Homo sapiens: one gene and its partners. The protein of the gene in region 4 purifies or fractionates together with the protein of the main gene of each other region. This does not show direct contact. Each region holds a gene or a part of one and is shown on either strand. Other genes may lie near its edges.

Evidence for each region. The genes of interacting proteins can lie anywhere in the genome.
Region 1: the proteins of KLHL22 (region 4) and NIPSNAP2 purify together in Homo sapiens (co-immunoprecipitation; 4 studies listed by BioGRID and IntAct, with this or other methods). This does not show direct contact.
Region 2: the proteins of KLHL22 (region 4) and NOA1 purify together in Homo sapiens (co-immunoprecipitation; 3 studies listed by BioGRID and IntAct, with this or other methods). This does not show direct contact.
Region 3: the proteins of KLHL22 (region 4) and NDUFAF5 purify together in Homo sapiens (co-immunoprecipitation; 3 studies listed by BioGRID and IntAct, with this or other methods). This does not show direct contact.

Annotation. Positions count from the first base shown.
Region 1 is NC_000007.14:55,983,968-55,989,009, reverse strand, and holds part of NIPSNAP2 (protein NipSnap homolog 2), read right to left. Parts: intron 4,164-5,042; coding exon 4,132-4,163; intron 1-4,131. UniProt on the Homo sapiens protein: Protein involved in mitophagy by facilitating recruitment of the autophagy machinery required for clearance of damaged mitochondria.
Region 2 is NC_000004.12:56,970,682-56,975,723, reverse strand, and holds part of NOA1 (nitric oxide-associated protein 1), read left to right. Parts: intron 1-1,701; coding exon 1,702-1,866; intron 1,867-2,370; coding exon 2,371-2,576; intron 2,577-5,042. UniProt on the Homo sapiens protein: Involved in regulation of mitochondrial protein translation and respiration. Plays a role in mitochondria-mediated cell death. May act as a scaffolding protein or stabilizer of respiratory chain supercomplexes. Binds GTP.
Region 3 is NC_000020.11:13,804,411-13,809,452, forward strand, and holds part of NDUFAF5 (arginine-hydroxylase NDUFAF5, mitochondrial), read left to right. Parts: intron 1-4,431; coding exon 4,432-4,492; intron 4,493-5,042. UniProt on the Homo sapiens protein: Arginine hydroxylase that mediates hydroxylation of 'Arg-111' of NDUFS7 and is involved in the assembly of mitochondrial NADH:ubiquinone oxidoreductase complex (complex I, MT-ND1) at early stages. May also have methyltransferase activity.
Region 4 is NC_000022.11:20,484,916-20,489,957, forward strand, and holds part of KLHL22 (kelch-like protein 22), read right to left. Parts: exon of another isoform or gene 4,916-5,042; coding exon of another isoform or gene 4,853-4,915; intron 4,330-4,852; coding exon of another isoform or gene 4,297-4,329; coding exon 4,070-4,296; intron 1-4,069. UniProt on the Homo sapiens protein: Substrate-specific adapter of a BCR (BTB-CUL3-RBX1) E3 ubiquitin ligase complex required for chromosome alignment and localization of PLK1 at kinetochores.

The sequences.
Region 1 (5,042 bases), on a different chromosome or scaffold from region 4:
GCCTTTGATGATCCAAGGAGGAAAGATTCTTGTATAAGAAACACTTATACACATATATATAAGTGTTTATATGGATGGTATCTTTTGGGTAGACACCCAGGAATGAAATTGCTGGGTCATATGTAATTTTTTTTTTCTTTTTTTTGAGATGGAGTCTTGCTCTGTCACCCAGGCTGGAGTGCAGAGGCGTGACCTTGGCTCACTGCAACCTCCACCTCCTGGGTTCAAGCGATTCTCCTGCCTCAGCCTCCTGAGTAGCTGGGATTACAGGTGCACACCAACATGCCCGGCTACGTTTTTGGTATTTATTTTTAGCACAGATGGGGTCTTGTCACGTTGGCCAGGTCGGTCTCGAATTCTTGACCTCAGGTGATCCGCGCCCTCAGCCTCGTTAAGTGCTGGGATTACAGGCGTGAACCACTGCGTCCAGCCCACATGTAATTTCTGAGGGACTACTAGACTATTTCCAAAGTGGCTGCACCATTTTACATTCCCATCAGCAATATCGGAAGGGTCCACTTTCTCCTCACCTCACTAACACGTTATTATCTATCTCTTTTAAGTTACAGCTGTCCCAGTGTGCAGGAACTGGTATCCCATTATAGTTTCACTTTGCATTTCCATAATGACTAAGAAGGTTGAGTCCCTTTCCATAAGCTTATGGGCATTCATGTATTTTCTTTGGTGAAATCCTATTCAAATCCTTTGTCCGTTAAAAAGTTTTAAAATTTATTTAAAAAAAAATTTTTTTTTTGATACAGGGTCTGTAGCCCAGGCTGAAGTGCAGTGGCACAATCTCAGCTCACTGCAACCTCTGCCTTCCAGGTTCAAGTGATTCTCGTGCCTCAGCCTCCCAAGCAGCTGAGATTACAGGCATGTGCTACCACACCTGGTTAATTTTTGTATTTTTTGTAGAGATGGGGTTTCACCATGTTGCCCAGGCTGGTCTCAAACTCCTGATCTCAGGTGATCTGCCCACCTTAGCCTCCCAAAGTAGCTGTGAGCCACTGCACCTGGCCTAAACATTTTTTAAACGTATTTTTTATTGTGGTAAAAAAAACACGTTAACATTGAATTTACCATCTTACCCATTTTTATGCAGTGTCCAGTATATTTACACTGTTATGCCACAGATCTCCAAAACATTTTCATTTTGTAAAACTGAAACTCTATACTCAATAAACACCAATTCCGTATTCCCTCTCTGCCCAGCTCCCGGCAACCACCTTTCCACTTTCTGTTTCTATGATTTTGGCAACACTGGATACTTCACATAAGGAGAATGATACACTATTTGTCCTCTTATTTCACTTAGCATTACATCCTCCTCAATGTTCACCATATTGCAGTATAAGACAAGACTTCCTTCTTTTTTGGAGGCGGGGGATGAAGTCTCGCTCTGTTGCCAGGCTGGAGGGCAGTGGCGCGATCTCAGCTCACTGCAACCTCCACCTCCCGGGTTCAAGTGATTCTCCTGCCTCAGCCTGCTGAGTAGCTGGGGCTACAGGTGCACGCTACCACGCCCAGCTAATTTTTGTATTTTTAGTAGAGACGGGGTTTTGCCATGTTGGCCAGGCTGGTCTCAAACTCCTGAGCTCGGGTGACCAGCCTGCCTTGGCCTCCCAAAGTGCTGGGATTACAGGTGTGAGCCACCGCACCCAGCCCACAATTTCTTTATCCATTTATCTATTGATGGATATGTGGGTTGTTTCTACCTCTTGGCTACTGCAAATAAAGCTATGATAAACATGGGTATGCGAATCTTTTTGAGATCTGCTTTGAATTCTGTTGGATATATATCCAGAAGTGGGACTGCTGAATCACACTAATTCCATTTTCAATTTATTTTTTATTTTTGTGAGACAGGGTCTCACTGGGAGTGCAGTGGCATGATCATGGCTCACTGCAGTCTCCACCTCCCCAGGCTCAAGCAATCCTCCCACCTCAGCCTCCTGAATAGCTGAGACTACAGGCATGTGCCACCACCACGCCTGGCAAGTTTTTTTTTTTTTTTTTTTTTTTTTTTATAGAGACAGGGTTTCACCATGTTGCCCAGGCTGGTCACCAACTCCTAGCATCAAGCGATCCTCCTGCCTTGGCCTCCCAAAGTGCTAGGATTACGGGTGTGAGCCACCACACCCAGCTGCTGTCTTTTCAAATTCTTTACCCATTTTTTAATTGAGTTATCTGTATTCTTATTATTGAGTTGTAAGAATTATTTATCTATTCTGAATTCAATTTGCTTATCAGACATATGATTTGCAAATATTTTATTCCAGTATATGACTTGTCTTTTTAATTAAATTTTTTTTTTTAGTATCACTGAAAGTAAGGCAATTTTTTGTTTTGTTTTGAAACAGTCTGCTGTCACCCAGGCTATAGTGCAATGGGGTGATCTTGGCTCACTACAACCTCTGTCTCCCAGGTTCAAGTGATTCTCCTGCCTCAGCCTCCTGAGTAGCTGGAACTACAGGTGCACACCGCCATACGTGGCTAATTTTTGTATTTTTAGTAGAGACAGGGTTTCACCAAGTTGGTCAGGCTGGTCTCAATCTCCTGACCTCAAGTGATCTTCCCACCTTGGCCTCCCAAAGTGCTGGGATAACAGGTGTGAGCCACCATCCCCGCCCTAATTTTTTATTTTTTTGAGACAGGGTCTTATTCTCTCCCAGGCTGAATAGTAGTACAATCATGGCTCACTGCAGCCTCCACCTTTAAGGCTCAGGTGATCCTCCCACCTCAGCCTCCCGAGGAGCTGGGACTACAAGTGTGTGCCACCATGCCCGGTTAATTTTTGTATTTTTTTGTAGAGTTGGGGTTTCGTCATGTTGCCCAGGCTGGTCTCAAAGTCTCAAACGTCTGGGCTGAAGCAATTCTCCTCCTTCAGCCTCCCCAAAGTGCTGGAATTACAGGCATGAGCCATCATGCCCAGTCTTTATTTTTATTTTTATTTTATTTTTTTGAAAAGGAGTCTCACTCTGTCACCTAGGCTAGAGCACAGTGGTGTGATCTCAGCTCACTGCAACCTCTGCCTCCTGGGTTCAAGCAATTCTCCTGCCTCAGCCTCCCAAGTAGCTGGGATTACAGGAGTGCACCACCACGCTCGGCTAATCTTTATATTTTCAGTAGAGATGGGGTTTTGCCATGTTAGCGAGGCTGGTCTCGAACTCCTAACTTCAGGTGATCTGCCCACCTCAGCCTCCCAATGTGTTGAGATTACAGGTGTGAGCCAACATGCCCGGACTTTTTTTTTTTTTTTTTTTTGAGACAGGGTCTCACTCTGTTGCCCAGGCTGGAGTGCAGTGGTGCAATCTTGGCTCACTGCAAACTCCATCTTCTGGGCTTAAGCAATTCTCTTACTCAGCCTCTCAAATACCTGGGACCTCAGGCATGTGGCATCACACCTGGCTAGTTTTATTTATTTATTTATTTTGGTAGAGGTTGGGGGTCTTACTATGTTGCCCAGGCTGGTCTTGAACTCCTGGACTTGAGTGATTCTCCTGCCTTGGCTTCCCAAAGTGCTGGGATTACAGGCATGAGCCACAGTGCACCTGGCTAGTCTTTTGCACTTCTAAAGCCTGCTGGGAGTTTGATAGGGATTCTGCTGAATCTACATATCAACTTGTGGAAAAATTGTTATTTTTCTACTCAAACTAGCAAGGAAAAAAAGAAGAAACCATTATTGACATGGTGTGTATATATGACAAAAGTAACGTTTCAGAAAAGATGATATCCAAGAAGTATGTAAACTAACCTTATGCAATATTGGTTTTGCTTTTAAAAAAAAGGTGCTTATCTTTTAGAAATATATATAGTACTGAAATATTTATGAATGAAATAGAATGCTGTCTGGGATTTAATTCCAAACAATCTGGGTTGAAGGAGTTAGGCCTAAACAAGATTGGCCATGTGTTAATTATTGAAGCTAAGAGATGGATGTGGAAGGGGAGCCCCATTATTCTCTCTAGTTTTGTATGTTTGAAAAATCTCATAATAAAAACATCAAACGAAACATTAGTGCAGTGTTAAGTCACAGTACTATCCTCAGATTTTTTTCCCTAGAATTAACACTATGGCCTAAACTAATCTATTCACAAGACTTAAAAAATCACCATTCAGTAATATACTCACCAGTAATTGCCCCATTCAATCATGGTTCCTGGCTGAAAACAGATTTAGATTTGGTTTGTTAGTTCTTCTGTGAAAAAAAAAATACAGAAATAGCAAACAGCAGTAGAAAAAACATTAAGTGACAAAACTAACTTCAAAAAACCTTTTTTTTTTTTTTTTTTGAGACAGAATCTTGCTCCGTCACCCAGGCTGGAGTGCAGTGGCTCAATCTCAGCTCCTGAAACCTCCGCCTCCTGGGTTCAAGCAATTCTCCTGCCTCAGCCTCCTGAGTAGCTGGGATTACCGGCGCCCGCCACCATGCCTGGCTAATTTTTTATATTTTTAGTAAGAGATGGGGTTTCACCATGTTGGCCAAGCTGGTCTCAAACTCCTGACCTCAGGTCACCCACCTGCCTTGACTTCCCAAAAAGCTGGGATTACAGGCATGAGCCACCACACCCAGCCAAAACTTTACTTTTTAATTTAATAGAGACAGGGTCTCACTATGTTGTTCAGGCTGGTCTCAAGCTTCCTGGCTCAAGCAATCCTCCAACCTTGGCCTCCCAAAGTGCTGGGATTACAGGCATTAGCCACTTTAATAATGCTGCTATGTGGGGCTTTCTTTCTAGTCCTCAGTAGGAAAATTTCTAGAAAGTGTTATATTATTGCCTTTTACTCTTATCATGTTATATAATTTGTTCAACAGTCACAGTGTTTATTAGCTGCTCTCCTTTAACCACAACAGATGTTACATATTGTACCTTATCCTGCACTTTAGGTCTTTCTTCTTAAAAACAAATATGTTATTTAGAAAAATATCAAATAATAAGCATTATGTGTAAGGCCATAAAAAGCAAAAGAGCTTAGCCTTGGTGACAGTGTGAGACCCAGTCTTAAAAAAATACATATATATACATATAATGCTAGACATA
Region 2 (5,042 bases), on a different chromosome or scaffold from region 4:
TTATATTTTTAGTAGAGACGGGGTTTCACTATGTTGGTCAGGCTGGTCTCAAACCCCTGACCTCGTGATCCGCCCGCCTCAGCATCCCAAAGTGCTGGGATTACAGGTGTGAGCCACCGCGCTTGGCCTAATTTTTGTATTTTCAGTAGAGATGGGGTTTCACCTTGTTGGCCAGGCTGGTCTGGAACTCTTGGCCTCCCAAAGCGCTGGGATTACAGGCAAGCACCACCATGCCCAGCTAATTTTTGTATCTTTGGTAGAGACAGGGTTTCAACATGTTGGCCAGGCAGGTCTCCAACTCCTGACCTCACGTGATCTGCCCACCTCGTCCTCCCAAAGTGCTGGGATTACAGGTGTGAGCCACTGCTCCCAGCCCATTAGTGCAATTTGATGTGTGGCTTTGCCGGGCTCAGTGGCTCACATCTGTAATTCTAGCACTTTGGGAGGCCAAGGTGGGCAGATTGCTTGAGCTCAGGAGTTCAGGACCAGCCTGGGCAACATGGTGAAACCCTGTCTCTACTAAAGATACAAAAATTAGTCAGGCTGGTGGTGCGTGCCTGTAGTCCCAGCTACTCAGGAGGTTGAGGTGGGAGAATCACCTGAGCCTGGAAGGTTGAGGTGGCAGTGAGCCCTAATTGGGCCACTGCACTCCAATCCAGCCTGGACAACAGAGACCCAAAAAAACAGAAGTATCAGTCTTGTGACTTTAAGAAACTTCTGTGGCCAGGTGCAGTGGGTCACACCTGTAATCCGAGCACTTTGGGAGGCCAAGGTGGGCAGATCACCTGAGGTCAGGAGTTCCAGACCAGACCTGCCCACATGGTGAAACTCCCATGTCTACTAAAAATACAAAACTTAGCCGGGTTTGGTAGCTGGTGCCTGTAATCCCAGCTACTCAGGAGGCTGAGGGTGAAGAATCGCTTGAACCTGGGAGGCTGAGCCAAGATCACACCACTGCACTCCAGCCTGGGCAACAGAGCAAGACGCTGTCTCAAAAACAAGAAAGAAAGAAACAAACTTCTGTAATTAGAAAATGAGTCCTTCTATGGTTTAAATTTTTTTTTTTTTTTTTGAGACAGAGGCTCACTCTGTCGCCCAGGTTGGAGTGCAGTGGTGCGATCTCGCCTCACGGCAACCCTCACCTCCCAGGTTCAAGCGATTCTCCTGCCTCAGCCTCCCAAATAGCTGGACTACAAGTGTGCACCACCACACCCAGCTAATTTTTTGTATTTTTAGTAGAGACAGGGTTTCACCATGTTGGCAAGGCAGGTCTCGAACTCCTGACCTCAAGTGATCCACCCGCCTGGGCCTCCCAAAGTGCTGGGATTACAGGTGTGAGCCACTACGCTCAGCCAGGCTTAAATTTAAGTTGACAAAACTGACTGCCCCATTTGTTCCCTTGAAACCAAAGTTTCATTTAGTAAGCTGCTCTTCTCTGTCTTGCACTTTGAATTTTACAGAAAAATTACTTTTATACTGAATGGTAATGTGATAAAAATGGAAAGAAATCGGGCCTACAGATTTTGGATTCCAATTCTGGTTTCCCCTGTGAACTAATCTCTTAACCTATTTCCTCATTTGTAAAGTGGCAGTAATTTTATATTTTATTACAGTAACCAACACAGTGTAGATCCTCAAAAATGTTCATTTTCTTCCCCCTTATTCCCTTTTGTAAAGATGTATTTATTCTGTGTATTTCAGGTACTACATTAAACCTTCTGAAGTTTCCTATTTGCAACCCAACTCCTTACAGAATGTTTAAAAGGCATCAAAGACTTAAAAAAGATTCAACTCAAGCTGAAGAAGATCTTAGTGAGCAAGAACAAAATCAGCTTAATGTCCTCAAAAAGCATGGTTATGTCGTAGGTAAGCATCCTCTATGGGAAAACCCTCGTTGGTACTATGCTAAAATTCTTTGTTAAGCAACCTGAAATACAGCTGTCCGAGGCTAGCCAGTTTTTGTGGGGAGAGACTGCCTTCCTTATTCTGCAACAAAGAGGCCCTTTAGCGATAAGGCTACTGTTTGGAAACCCAGAGCAGTACAGGTAGTAAAAGTTTTTACTCCATGCAGCAGCTTTAGATTAGGTTGTCTGTCTTTCCTTGGTATATCTTTTCAGCCTTTCTTTAAAACAGTCTGATTTCCACACACCCTTGCCCCCGCCACTCCATGTACACAGCCAGCCACACGCTTGATTATTGCAAGAGTTGACTCCCACTGCTTTTTGGAAAAAAAAAAAAGCAAAAGTATCATTATGGTCTCACTTCCCTACACTGTAATCTTAGTAACTTGTTTGAGGGAAACATAAAAATTATGTCTGGAGTTAAAAGTATTAAAGGAGTGACTAATAACCTTACTATAACTTGTTCTAGGAAGAGTTGGAAGGACATTCTTGTATTCAGAAGAACAGAAGGATAACATTCCCTTTGAGTTTGATGCTGATTCACTTGCCTTTGACATGGAAAATGACCCTGTTATGGGTACACACAAATCCACCAAACAAGTAGAATTGACTGCACAAGATGTGAAAGATGCCCACTGGTTTTATGACACCCCTGGAATTACAAAAGAAAATTGTGTATGTATTTGGTTTCTTTTAGAAACATTTACTTTCTTTTTCTTTTTTAATGGGTTTATATTGCCTGCTGCCCAGATACAGCCAATTTATCAAGACAGGGGAATTGCAATAGAGAAAGAGTGTAATGCATGTAGAGCCAGCTAAATGGGAAACTGGAGTTTTATTACTAGTCATATCAGCCTCAGAAACATTTACTTTCAATTGCACAAGTACTGCTGTCTTAATTGGCAGAAAACAGGAAAAGAAGTATACTTCCATTTTAGACTCAGTTCTGATTCATTCATGAAAGCTGTTTAGGGGTGAATCTGTATGCCATCAAGTTCTGTGTTCCATTTGATAGACTTCATTGCTGACAACCAACTTATTTTATCATTGTGATTGTTACCTTGGTTAGGGAAACGTTTACAGAAGCCTAGGTTTTGAGGTTGGAAAAACACATAAATATCACTGGAGTCCAACTCCCTAGTCCCTGCTTGAATTACCTCTGTAACATATCCATCAAGGGGTCCTCCATCTTGAACTGAAAGGAGTGACTCACCAAAGCTGAAACTGTCATGTCACCTTCCAAGGTAACTCATTTGGGTCTTTGACCTTCTCTTTGTATTGAGTGTACTGAGCTGAATAGTCTCCCTGTAACATGTATCCATTGTTCCCCAAAGCCATCTGGGACTAAGGTAATACCTATTTCCCTTGCCAGACAAATATTTTAAAATGTAACGTCCCATCTCTTCTTCACCTATCCCTCCCTTTTCTTCTCTTTCATTACTTCATCCAGCAAACGTTGAGCATTCACTGTGCCCACAATCTGGATTATTTGTCTTCATTTCCTACAGCTGTGCTGTAGGAAACAGGCTATTCATTGGCCCAGGCCTCTTCAGAATGTTTTCTATGTTTGTTCTTAAAGTGTGACACTGAGAACTCAGTGCTCTCAGGTGAGCATGATTTAGAATAGCATTAACTCCGACCGGGCGCAGTGGCTCACGCCTGTAATCCCAGCACTTTGGGAGGCCCAGGCGGGCAGATCACAAGGTCAGGAGATCGAGACCATCTGGGCTAACACGGTGAAACCCTGTCTGTACTAAAAATACAAAAAATTAGCCAGGAGGTAGTGGGCACCTGTAGTCCCAGCTACTCGGGAGGCTGAGGCAGGAGAATGGTGTGAACCCGGGAGGCGGAGCTTGCAGTGAGCTGAGATCGTGCCACTGCACTCCAGTCTGGGTGACAGAGCAAGACTCTGTCTCAAAAAAAAAAAAAAAAGAATAGCATTAACTCCACCTGTCTTGTCCCTATGCCTCTCTTTTATCCAATTGCTCATGGACAACTTTGGGCCTCATAGGTAACTTTGACTTTGTCTTGTTAAATTCAGCCTATATCTTACTCTGTTAAATATTCATTCAATCTCATTACTTTTTATATTTGCAGTTTGGATCTTCATTCAGATCATTGATTGACTCAAATGTGCATCCAGGATACAGCCTCACAACAGATTCATTAATCATTTCCTTCGAATCTGGTTACTGACCAGTTTCCGATTTTCTAATTATCTCTGTATCTCCCTACAAAACCACATTGGTTTCTTAGGTACTTTTCTTGGCCTCATCAGGAACACTTATAGTTACATTCTCAGAATTGTATTCTATTTGGTGTCCCCTGTCATTGAATCATACACACCTTTTAAATTTTATTGCTCTCCTGGAATAATTGCTCATGCCATCTTTTCTTCCTTAGCAGTCCAAAAGTTCAGAGCTGCTTTCTAATAATATTCTGTCACTTTAGCTTAATGAACTAATTCTTCCCCCACCATACTTTTTTTTTTTTTTTTTTTTTTTTTTGAGATGGAGTCTGACTCTCTTGCCCAGGCTGGAGTGCAGTGGCGCAATGATCTTGGCTCACTGCAACCTCTGCCGCCTGGGTTCAAGCGATTGTCCTGCCTCAGCCTCTCGAGTAGCTGGTATTAGAGGCATGTACCACCACACCCAGCTACTTTTTGTATTTTTAATAGAGACAGGGTTTCGCCATGTTGGCCAGGCTGGTCTCAAACCCCTCACCTCAGGTAATCCACCCACTTCAGCCTCCCAAAGTGCTAGGATTGTGGATGGGAGCCACTACGCCCAGACTAATTCTTCCCTTTCAGATGCTATTAGATCAGGCATAGCAGTTACTTCAGTCATATATCCTCTATTAAATAGTTGTGTCAGAAAGGCAAGAATTTGCAAAATACTCTAGACAGCAGAATGAGAACCCCAAATTTTTAGATATAAACGTCTGTCAGCACTGGTAGTTTGCTTCTCTGTTAGTTTACAGATAAACTTATTTGATGTCTTAAACCAGGGTTTCCCAGACTGAACCAAGGATCTCTGTTGTGAAATGAAAGTATTAAGACTCAGGCTGTGCACAGTGCCTCACACCTGTAGTCCCAGCACTTTGGGAGGCCGAGGTGGGAGGATTGCTTGAGCCCAGGAGTTT
Region 3 (5,042 bases), on a different chromosome or scaffold from region 4:
GTAACCTTCCAGACTTTTTTTTTTTTAACAAGGACTACTTTATATAGACAGTCATATGTATTCACACATTTCTGAAACTTTTTTTATTAACAGTATATGTATTTCCAATATACTGTTAATAGTTTTCTAAATTGGTATGGATATATTTGCACTCCTTAATTTCCGCATATTATTTCCTAGTATGAATGTACCACAGTTTTACTTAACTATTTACCTGTGAATGACCTTTAGGTTTGTTCTGATTTTTTGCCAATAGTAGCAATGCTGCAGTGAATATCCTTCTATACAAATTCATTTATGTATTCAGTCTTGCAACAAACATTTACTGAGTACCTTCTGTGTGTCTGGTACTATCCTAGGTACTTCAAATATAGCAGTGAACAAAACAGAAATCCCTGCGTGGTGTTTTTGGGTTTATAGCAGGCCTGTTGGTAAACTTTAGACCGTTCAATAATACTGGGATGTTGTACACAAAATTTGTGGTGGTGGTGTTCATAAATGGAGGAAAGTACCCATGGTTTTCATCAGATCTTGAGAGAGCTAATATAACTAAAAATAGATTAGGAACCAGTGATTTAAAGCCTTTTTGATAATATTTATTTTACTTATAATATGGAAAAAATTTCCTTTACAGTCTACCCTCTTGAGAATCGTCTCCTATATTGCTGTGTCACCAACCTATCATTGAGATGAAAAAAGAATCTCCGGGAATGTAAAGCCTCTAAAAAGTATAGGAGGTGTAGGGCTGGGATGGTGTGGCGATGTGTAGTGCACATTTTCATGAGGTGATGTTAAAAAATTTATACGAGGTCATACAGGTTAGTCAGCAATATTACAGGACTCAAAAGTTATTGCCCATTACGAAAAAAATGGGATTTCTGCTAATCACCAGAAGAAAGTTAAATTATGTGAACTACACATGGTTTTCTGTGGTTATAAAGAATGAGTTTTAGAAAGATTTCTACTAAAAATGTTTAACCTGATGTTAAAATGTTTAAAAGCCTACATTTCTATTAATTGGGAAATATAATTCAGAATACTATCCATATTCTCTAAAAATGAGCCTAATGACTCATACTTTAATATAATATAAAAATATTGGTGTAGAATCTTCTTTAGTTTATACAATTAGAAAGTTGCTGATTTAATAAGAAAGTTATGAGAATGTCTTCTTGAATCATTACATTTATCCTGTGAGGCATGTATACAGTTTTGTTTCTGAGGTGCTGTATTAATATTGCGTCCTGGCCAGGCACAGTTGTTCACTCCCATAATCTCAGCACTTTGGGAGGCCTAGGTCAGAGAATCACTTCAGCCTGGGATTTCAAGACCAGCCTGGGCAACATAGGGAGTCCTCATCTCTAAAAAAAAATTTTTTTAAATAGCTGGGCCTGCCTGTAGTCCCAGCTACTCGGGAGGCTGAGTTGGAAGGATTGAGCCTGGGACGTTGAGGCTGCAGTGAGCCATGATCTCACCACTGCACTCCAGCCTGTGTGACAGAGCAAGATCCTGTCTCCAAAAAAAATAATAATAATATGTGTTCTAATTCATTTTCTAAAAATTCCCATCCAAAAAAGCTTTTGTATAATCAGCTATACAGGTTTATGTTGCATACATTAGATATATTACTTTTACGCTACAATGGATTTTTATTTTTAAAGTGAAATCGAGTCAGATTAGTATCATATAGATGTATTTACATCTTAATGTATTTTCATCTTAATGAATTATTTTCAGAGAATGAGCATTCTAAGTAAAGCTGATTTCCGTTTTAGAACTGAACTACCAGACTAGTACTTTAAGAGAATGGTGCAAGGCCTGGCACGGTGGCTCACGCCTCTAATCCTAACACTTTGGGAGGCCAAGGCAGGCAGATCACAAGGTCAGGAGATCAAGACCATCTTGACTAACACAGTGAAACCCCGTCTCTGCTGAAAATACAAAAAAATTAGCTGGGCGTGGTGGCACATGGCCTGTAGTCCCAGCTACTTGGGAGGCTGAGGCAGTAGAATAGCTTGAACCTGGGAGGCGGAGGTTGCAGTGAGCCGAGATCGCACCACTGCACTCCAGCCTGGGCGCTGGGTGGCAAAGTGAGACTCCGTCTCAAAAATAAAATAAAAAAAATGGTGCAGATATGGTCCCCTTTTAATTTAAATAAGGCCTTCAACAAAGCTGTTGTGGCATTCTTTTGATTGAAGTGGAGATAGTGCTTTTAGTTGGTTGCACTGAAGAATTGTTTTCAAAGGATATTGCTTAATGGCTAGATAACAGCCTGGAAAGAATTTTGTTTTTAATCTTAGGATCTCCTCTTAAAAACAGCTTGTTAATATGGAAAAGTATATGGATGATGAATGTTCATGGTCTCACTACCTAGAGGTCTCATTAAAAAGCATACACAACCTGATACACGTATATGTTTTTTTAAAGAAGAGTAAGGTATATATAGAGAGAGTGATACAGTGGGGTGTAAAGTGAAACGAAGTCTCCTCTTCCTGACTTCTCCCTCTGTTGCCCAGGCTAGAGTGCAGTGGCGAGATCTCCGCTTACTGCAACCTCTGCCTCCCAGGTTCAAGGGATTCTCATGCCTCTGCCTCCCAAATAGCTGGGACCAAGGGCATGTGCCATCACACCCAGCAATTTTTTTTTTTTTTTTTGAGATGGAGTCTTGCTCTTTCACCCAGGTTGGAGTGCCGTGGCGTGATCTCGGCTCACTGCAACCTCTGCCTCCCGGGTTCAAGCGATTATGCTGCCTCAGGCTCCCAAGTAGCTGGGACTACAGGCACCAACCACCATGCCTGGCTAATTTTTTGTATTTTTAGTAGAGATGGGGTTTCACCATGTTAGCCAGAATGGTCTCGATCTCCTGACCTCATGATCTGCCTGCCTCGGCCTCCCAAAGTGCTGGGATTACAGGCATGAGCCATCGTGCCTGTCCCTCCTCCTGACTTCTCAAACCCTGGTCCCTTTCCCCAAAGATTTGTTAGCTGTGTCTTAGACATCGTTTCAGATCCACTTTTTTTTATAGACCCATAGAATACACTTATGTCATTTAAACTTACTTATATAATATTACATGCACTCTTTTGCTTTTTTTTTTCCAGTCAATAACATGTCTTGGAGATTTTTTTCCTATAGACATGTATCTACCTTATTTTTTGAGAACTGTACAGTATTTTATAGAATACATATTCTTTAATTTGTTTAACCAGTCCTCTATTAATGATGTTTAGATTTATTTTAGGCTAGTTTCCAGCCAGGCGCCATGGCCCACACTTGGAATCCCAGCACTTTGGGAGGCTGAGGCTGGTGGATCACAAGGTTAGGAGATCGAGACCAGCCTGGCTAACACGGTGAAAGCCCGTCTCTACTAAAAATACAAAAAAAAAAAATTAGCTGGGCACGGTGGCAGGCGCCTGTAATCCCAGCTACTCGGGAGGCTGAGGCACAAGAATCGCTTGAGTTCAGGAGGCAGAGGCTGCAACGAGCAGAGATCACACCACTGCATTCCAGCCTGGGCAACACAGCAAGAATCCGTCTTAAAAAAAAAAAAAATTATTTTAGGCTAGTTTCCAATAAGAATAAACCCCTACTTTTAGTGCCTAACACAATAAAGTTTTATCACATCACAGCTGCGTGCTGGTGGGACAGCCCATCTCCATCTTGTAGCTGTGCCATCTGGCCCTGTGTTCTATAATCTGGCCCTGTGTTCTATAAGATCACCACAGCAAAAGAGATGGCCTGGAAAAGGCTCTAGCTCTTAACTGTCTTGCCCCTCCTTTCTTTGGCCAAAAGAAATATGTGTTTGAGATTGGGAAGTGTCAAGGAGCACCTGGATATTTGGGGAGCATCAGTGGTCTCTGCCACTGTACCAACAGTTAAGTCCTGTATCAGGCTTCAAAAAGAAGAGGAAGTCATTACCCAATTGTTCATTTGAGAAACAAACTCCACATGTATCAGCAATGTGCTCATTTCCTAAACAAGCCTATTGGCTGCATTACTAGATATAGAATGAAATATTTTGATTCTAGGTGCCCCATTTTAAGAAAGATTGATATTGACACTGTCCAGGGACATGTAGTCAGAACATGTAAGGATCTCCAGATTTTTGTGTCCTGAAGGTTTTCAAAGACTTGGAGGAGAGGGCAATGGTTTGTAGGGTACAGAATACTCTTATTCTGTGTGGTTCCCAAAGAGAGAACTAGAACCAATGATGGAGTTTTAGGATGATTTCTCTCACAATGCAGGATATTTAATCAGCAATTAGAGACTTTCATAAATCAAACATAAGCCAGATGACATCTATGAAGAATATTGTAAATATTTTTTGCTTAGCATGGGAGATTGGTCTGGGTAGTCTCTGCGGCCTCTTTTTTAAATCTGGAATTTTGTATCATGAATGTCAAATGAATATTTCTTTTTCTTTTTAAATAGGACACTGATGAAATTCAAGTTAACTATCCTGGAATGTTTGAATTGATGGAAGATTTACAAGGTAAGGCACTTTAAAGAATTTTTAGACTCCATTGGGAAAGGTAGGCCAAAAAAAAAGAATTTTTAGACTCCATTTGAGAGAAACATTTTGAGAGCCAGCTCTTTGGCAGGCACTGGGCAAAGCACTAGGGATCCATTGTTGAGGAGAAAGCAGACTGTCTTCATGGAGCTTCTGATATAAAATGGAGGAGGCAGGCACCAGGCAGCTGTCACAGAGATAAGTGTTAAATTAGAATTATGGTCAGTGCTATGAAGTAGAGGCATATAGTGCTACGGCTGTTTGTAAAAAGATGGCGGGACTTTTTTTTGAAGGGTGCACTTGAGGATGATGGAACACATTGGTGACTTCCTTCAGCCACACTTGGCAGCTGAGATACAGGAATGAAGGTAGTTGAGTTGGTTTAGAAGTAGGGTTTTGTCAGGGGGAAATGTCCCAGTCTGGGAGACTCAAAAAGAAGTGTTATCTGAGGAAGTAGCAATTGAGCTGTGCTCTAAAAAAAAATGGAGATGAATTAACTGGGTAGACAGAGTAGGCAAGTGAATCTGAGGCA
Region 4 (5,042 bases):
TTTTTTCTTTTTCTGAAACTGCTCTGAAAAAATTTAAATGGCATTGGAGTCTTTTCATAAAAGGCACACCTACCCTGGAAAACATCTGGGCTTTGTGTTTTGTGGGGAATACAACTTTCTCTCTCTTTTGGGGATAAAGTGCTATTAATTTTTTAAAAATAAAATCATCAATTGTATCCAAACTTTTAAAGTAACAGACATTGAGTTCAGCTAAGCAGTCTTTTATAATTCACAGATGGAATGAAAACTAAGGGAGGGACGAGGTGACCCATGGAGGTTGTATAAAAAGGACAGAGCCTTTGGGCTCTTCAGACTATAAGGGTCCAGGAGGAGAGGAGAAACCACCTCAGAAGCATACAAGGTTAAAGCATACAAGGTGGGTGTAGGGTCAGGGGAGCCAAAGTAAGTGTGCAATGAAAAGTTATTAACAAAAGTCAAAAAAAGAAAATGCAGTCTGGCCATCCAATTCCTAAACCATGTACAGAGTACACAGAAAGAGCACAGGAGGCTTCCTGCAGCAGGGCAGTACAGCTCTCTGCCCTTCAGGAAAACTGAGATTCCTCCACCTGGGAAACAGCAAGGGACAATTAGGGAAAGCTCTCCAGAGGAGGAGGCATCTCAGGTGGGCCAAAGAAGAAAAATTTCCACAGGACAGAAAAGGCAGAGAAGAGGCCAGGCATGGTGGCTCACGTCTGTAATCCGAACACTTTGGGAGGCCAAGGCAGGCGGATCACCTGAGGTCAGGAGTTGGAGACCAGCCTGGCCAACATGGCAAAACCCCGCCTCTACTAAAAATACAAAAATTAGCCGGGTTTGGTGGCACACGTCTGTAATCCCAGCTACTCAGGAGGCTGAGGCAGGAGAATCACTTGAACCCGGGAGGCAGAGGTTGCAGTGAGCCGAGATTGCCCCACTGCACTTCAGCCTGGGGGACAGGGCGAGACTCCATCTCAAAACAAACAAACAAAAGGCTGGGCGTGGTGTGGCTCACACCTGTCATCCCAGCACTTTGGGAGGCCAAGGAGGGCAAATCACAAGGTCAGGAGTTCGAGATCAGCCTGGCCAACATGGTGAAACCCTGTCTCTACTAAAAATACAAAAAATTAGCCGGGCGTGGTGGCGCACACCTGTAGTCCCAGCTACTCGAGAGGCTGAGGCAGGAGAATTGCTTGAACCCGGAGGCAGAGGTTGCAGTGAGCCGAGATCACACCACTGCACTCCAGCCTGGGTGACAGAGTGAGATTCCGTCTCAAAAAAAAAAAAAAAAAAAGAAATTTATGTTCTTTGTAAAATAATTCAGACAATGCAGTAAACAGAAGAAATTCAGCCTCCCTCTCCCTTTGCCCTTTGCTGAGTCCCCACGGTGCAGCAAGATCCTTCCAGATCTTCATGGTTGGGATCATCTTCCACCAGGTCCTGAGGTTTTTCACTCCCTATCAGTAGACACACCACACTGCCCAGTTTGCAAGTAGCTCCATTGGATAACACAGAAAGGCTCTGTCCTGCACCATGTCTCAGCACTGGGTGCATCGTCCCACAGGAATGACACCTAGACACCCAACATACAACTGCAGGGCCCTAAACTATGGGCCAGCCCACCCCTAAATGCCCTTCTCTCTACCCTTGCCCATATCAAATATTACAAGCCTCTCACACATATTTACCAGTCATACTGGGAAAAAAATAGTCCTTTATCATTTTAACATTTCACAAGTAACTAAAACAAATAATAAACATGCTAACACTTGGGAATGGTCTATTTCTTTTCTTTTTTTTTTTTTTTGAGACGGAGTTTCATTCTTGTTGCCCAGGCTGGAATGCAGTGGCGCAATCTCGGCTCACTGCAACCTCCGCCTCCCGGGTTCAAGCAATTCTCCTGCTTCAGCCTCCTGAGTAGCTGGGATTACAGGCATGTGCTACCACGCCCAGCTAATTTTGTATTTTTAGTAGAGACAGGGTATTGCCATGTGGGTCAGGCTGGTCTCCAACTCCTGACCTCAAGTTATCCGCCCTCCTTGGCCTCCCGAAGTGCTGGAATTATAGGAGTGAGCCACCAAGCCTGGCCTCTTTCTAGGCTCACTGCAACCTCCGCCTCCTGGGTTCAAGTGATTCTCCTGCCTCAGCCTCCCAAGTAACTGGGATTACAGGCATGTGCCACCACGCCCCGCTAGTTTTTGTATTTTTAGCAGAGACGGAGTTTCACTATGTTGGCCAGGCTGGTCTCGAACTACTAATCTCAGGTGATCCACCCGCCTCGGCCTCCCAAAGTTCTAGGATTACAGGCGTGAGCCACTACATCCAGCCTCTTTTTTGTTTTTTTGAAACAGGGTCTTGCTCTGTCACCCAGGCTGGAATGCAGTGGCACAATCTCGGCTCACTGCAACCTCCGCATCCTGTGTTCAAGCAACTCTCCTGCCTCAGCCTCCCAAGTAGCTGGGATTACAGGCGCCCACCACTACACCCAGCTAATTTTTTTTTTTTTTTTTAGTAGAGACAGGGTTTCACCATGTTGGCCAGGCTAGTCTCAAACTCCTGGCCTCAAGTGATCCACCTGCCTTGGCCTCCCAAAGTGCTGGGATTACAGGTGTGAGCCACCGTGACTGGCCTCTATTTCTTATTTATACATACACACACACACCCCCCTGTGAAATGACTCTGGGCTCTTCCAATAATGTTGCCACTCTCCCGCTCCCCTTCCCAATGGAAGTGGAGGGATGCAGGGGGTGTTAGTGATGCATTGTAATCATCCCGGAGAGCAGGACACCTCTCATAAGAGGTTTACCCAAGGGGGGCTGTGGAAAGGGCTAGAAATTGCTCCTGGAGGACGTGGAAAGCCACATAAGGTTTTTGACAGATTAGCGAAAGGCTGCCTACACTGTCATCTTCAGAAAGAGTGGTATGACACTAAATCAAGAAGGGCTGAGAGGGTGAGCCCAGGGGATCCCATAGGCTCCACAGCCTCTGGCCATCCTCTCCTATACAGGTCCTAAGTCCCCTGCAGGGGGCCCTCAGCTCCTCTACCCTACCCACTGTCCTGTATGTTATCTTAATGCTTATTAAAGGCCTCAGCTGAATTTCCCTGGTGAACTGAAAGAATTCTGCTGCTCCTGGACACATCTGCACCAAGCCACCACTGGGTCACATTCTCCAAAACTCCTTTTGGAGACAGAAGGCACTTAAACCATACATATTTTGCTTGATAGTTCCTAATTAAAAAAATAGAGAGAGATAAAGAGAAAGAGAGAGAGAGAGAACTACAACTAAGCCTTGAAGACAAAATGATTGAACAGAATCAGAGCTAGAATGGAACACCTCAGGCTTGGAGTCCCATGACAACCTTGCTGGGGACCACGAGTGGCCCTCAGTCCTTCTCAGGCTCATGCCACCTATGTGAAATAAGGGTGGTGACACCCACCTCCTTGAGTGCAGAGCAGTGCAGACAACAGGGCAAATGGTGTATTGATCTGCTATCTGTGTACATAAATTTATTCATTTAAGCCATGGGTATTGTTTGAATATGTGAAAACCATGTCAGGTGCTAGGGATAAGAGACAGATTCCAACCCAGTGGAAAAGACAGATAAGCCAGTGGTTCCTCACACTGTGCCAAGTGCTGGGATGGGGTCACGAAGGAGGCCATAAGAAACCCCAGAGGGGCCACAGAGCTCACTGGGAGGGCCAGAGGCTAACACCTGAGGGATGAGAGGTGTGAGCCAGAAGGTGATGCATACACAGCAATAATTACTGACGGAGGGGAGGAATGGTAAGGGAGGGGAGGAGAGAAAGGAGGAAAGAAAAGAGAAAAGAAAAGAGAGAGAAAAGGAAAAGAAAAGGAAGAGAAGAGAGGGAAGAGAAGAGGAGGCAAAGCCCAAGAAACAGGATCACTGAATGAAAAATGAACTCTAAGACCCCCTTCTGTCTCTCACACTTGTTGACTAAGTCATAGCCACAAGGAGTAGGGGAGGCTCTGAGGTGAGCAGGAGACCAGCCACTGTCACCGCCAGTACCTTTACTAGCAGAGCCAGGATTACCTTTGTTATTCTTCTTACAAACAGCTCTAGTGAACTCACCTGAAGTAATCGCAGGACGCAGCCAGCAGGATGCGATGGGCCTCGATGTGTCTGCCCTCCACCACCAGCACAACATCGAAGAGGATTCCGCTGTCCCGGAGAGCCAGCAGCCCTCGGAGCAGAGCCTGGGAGTGCTGTGCGCTGCGGTAGGTGTTGTTCACGCAGTGTGGGTGTGAGGGCTGTGCAGGCAACTTGCAGAGCTGGGTGAACTCCTGCTCCTCTGCCATCCTGACAGCCACAAGATCCCTTACAACTGTGGCCTGACAGTTGGCAAAACAGGGGACAGGGGTGAGCAGGCAGGCATCAGCCCCACCACACACAGACTGGCCAGCTCTGTTGCTCCCCTTGCTCCTGTGCCTCCCTCAGGCTCACCTGTTTTCCCTCTATTTCCAAATCCCCTAATTCCTTCTCCCCTCCCACCTCTAGTCCAACTTCCTGATGGCCTTCTTCCTGATGACCTGTGTGCCATCATGCCCAAGACTCTTCATCTCATTGTATCTTCTTCAGCGGCAAAGTCAAACAGAAGGGTTTTGGGAAACAGACTGACCTGGGTTGGAGCCCAACTCCACAGGGACTTACAACATGACCAAACTGAGCCTCGAGCTCCCCAATTTTAAAAAGAGAGATAAAAGTACCTACCCCATTGGGGTATTCTAAAATTGGTAAAACAATGAACATGAAGCATAAGCACACACCAGGTTCTCAAGAGCTCTTCCTCCCTCCCATTGAATGAACAAAATTGGGTTCTTCCTCATAGTAATGGATGCATAAAAATGGCAAGACCTGAGTAGTGGTCAGGAGACACACAGCCAGGAGTCTGGGAGGTGGGTGCCAAGGGGGTGGCATTTCCAGGGCCTACTTTCCTTTACTGAAATTCTGAGAGTCAAGCACAGTAACTGTGATTGAACCTGATGCATTTAAATTCATCTGCATTGCCTTTTAAATTAAAGATTATCTTCTAATAATTGAGTCA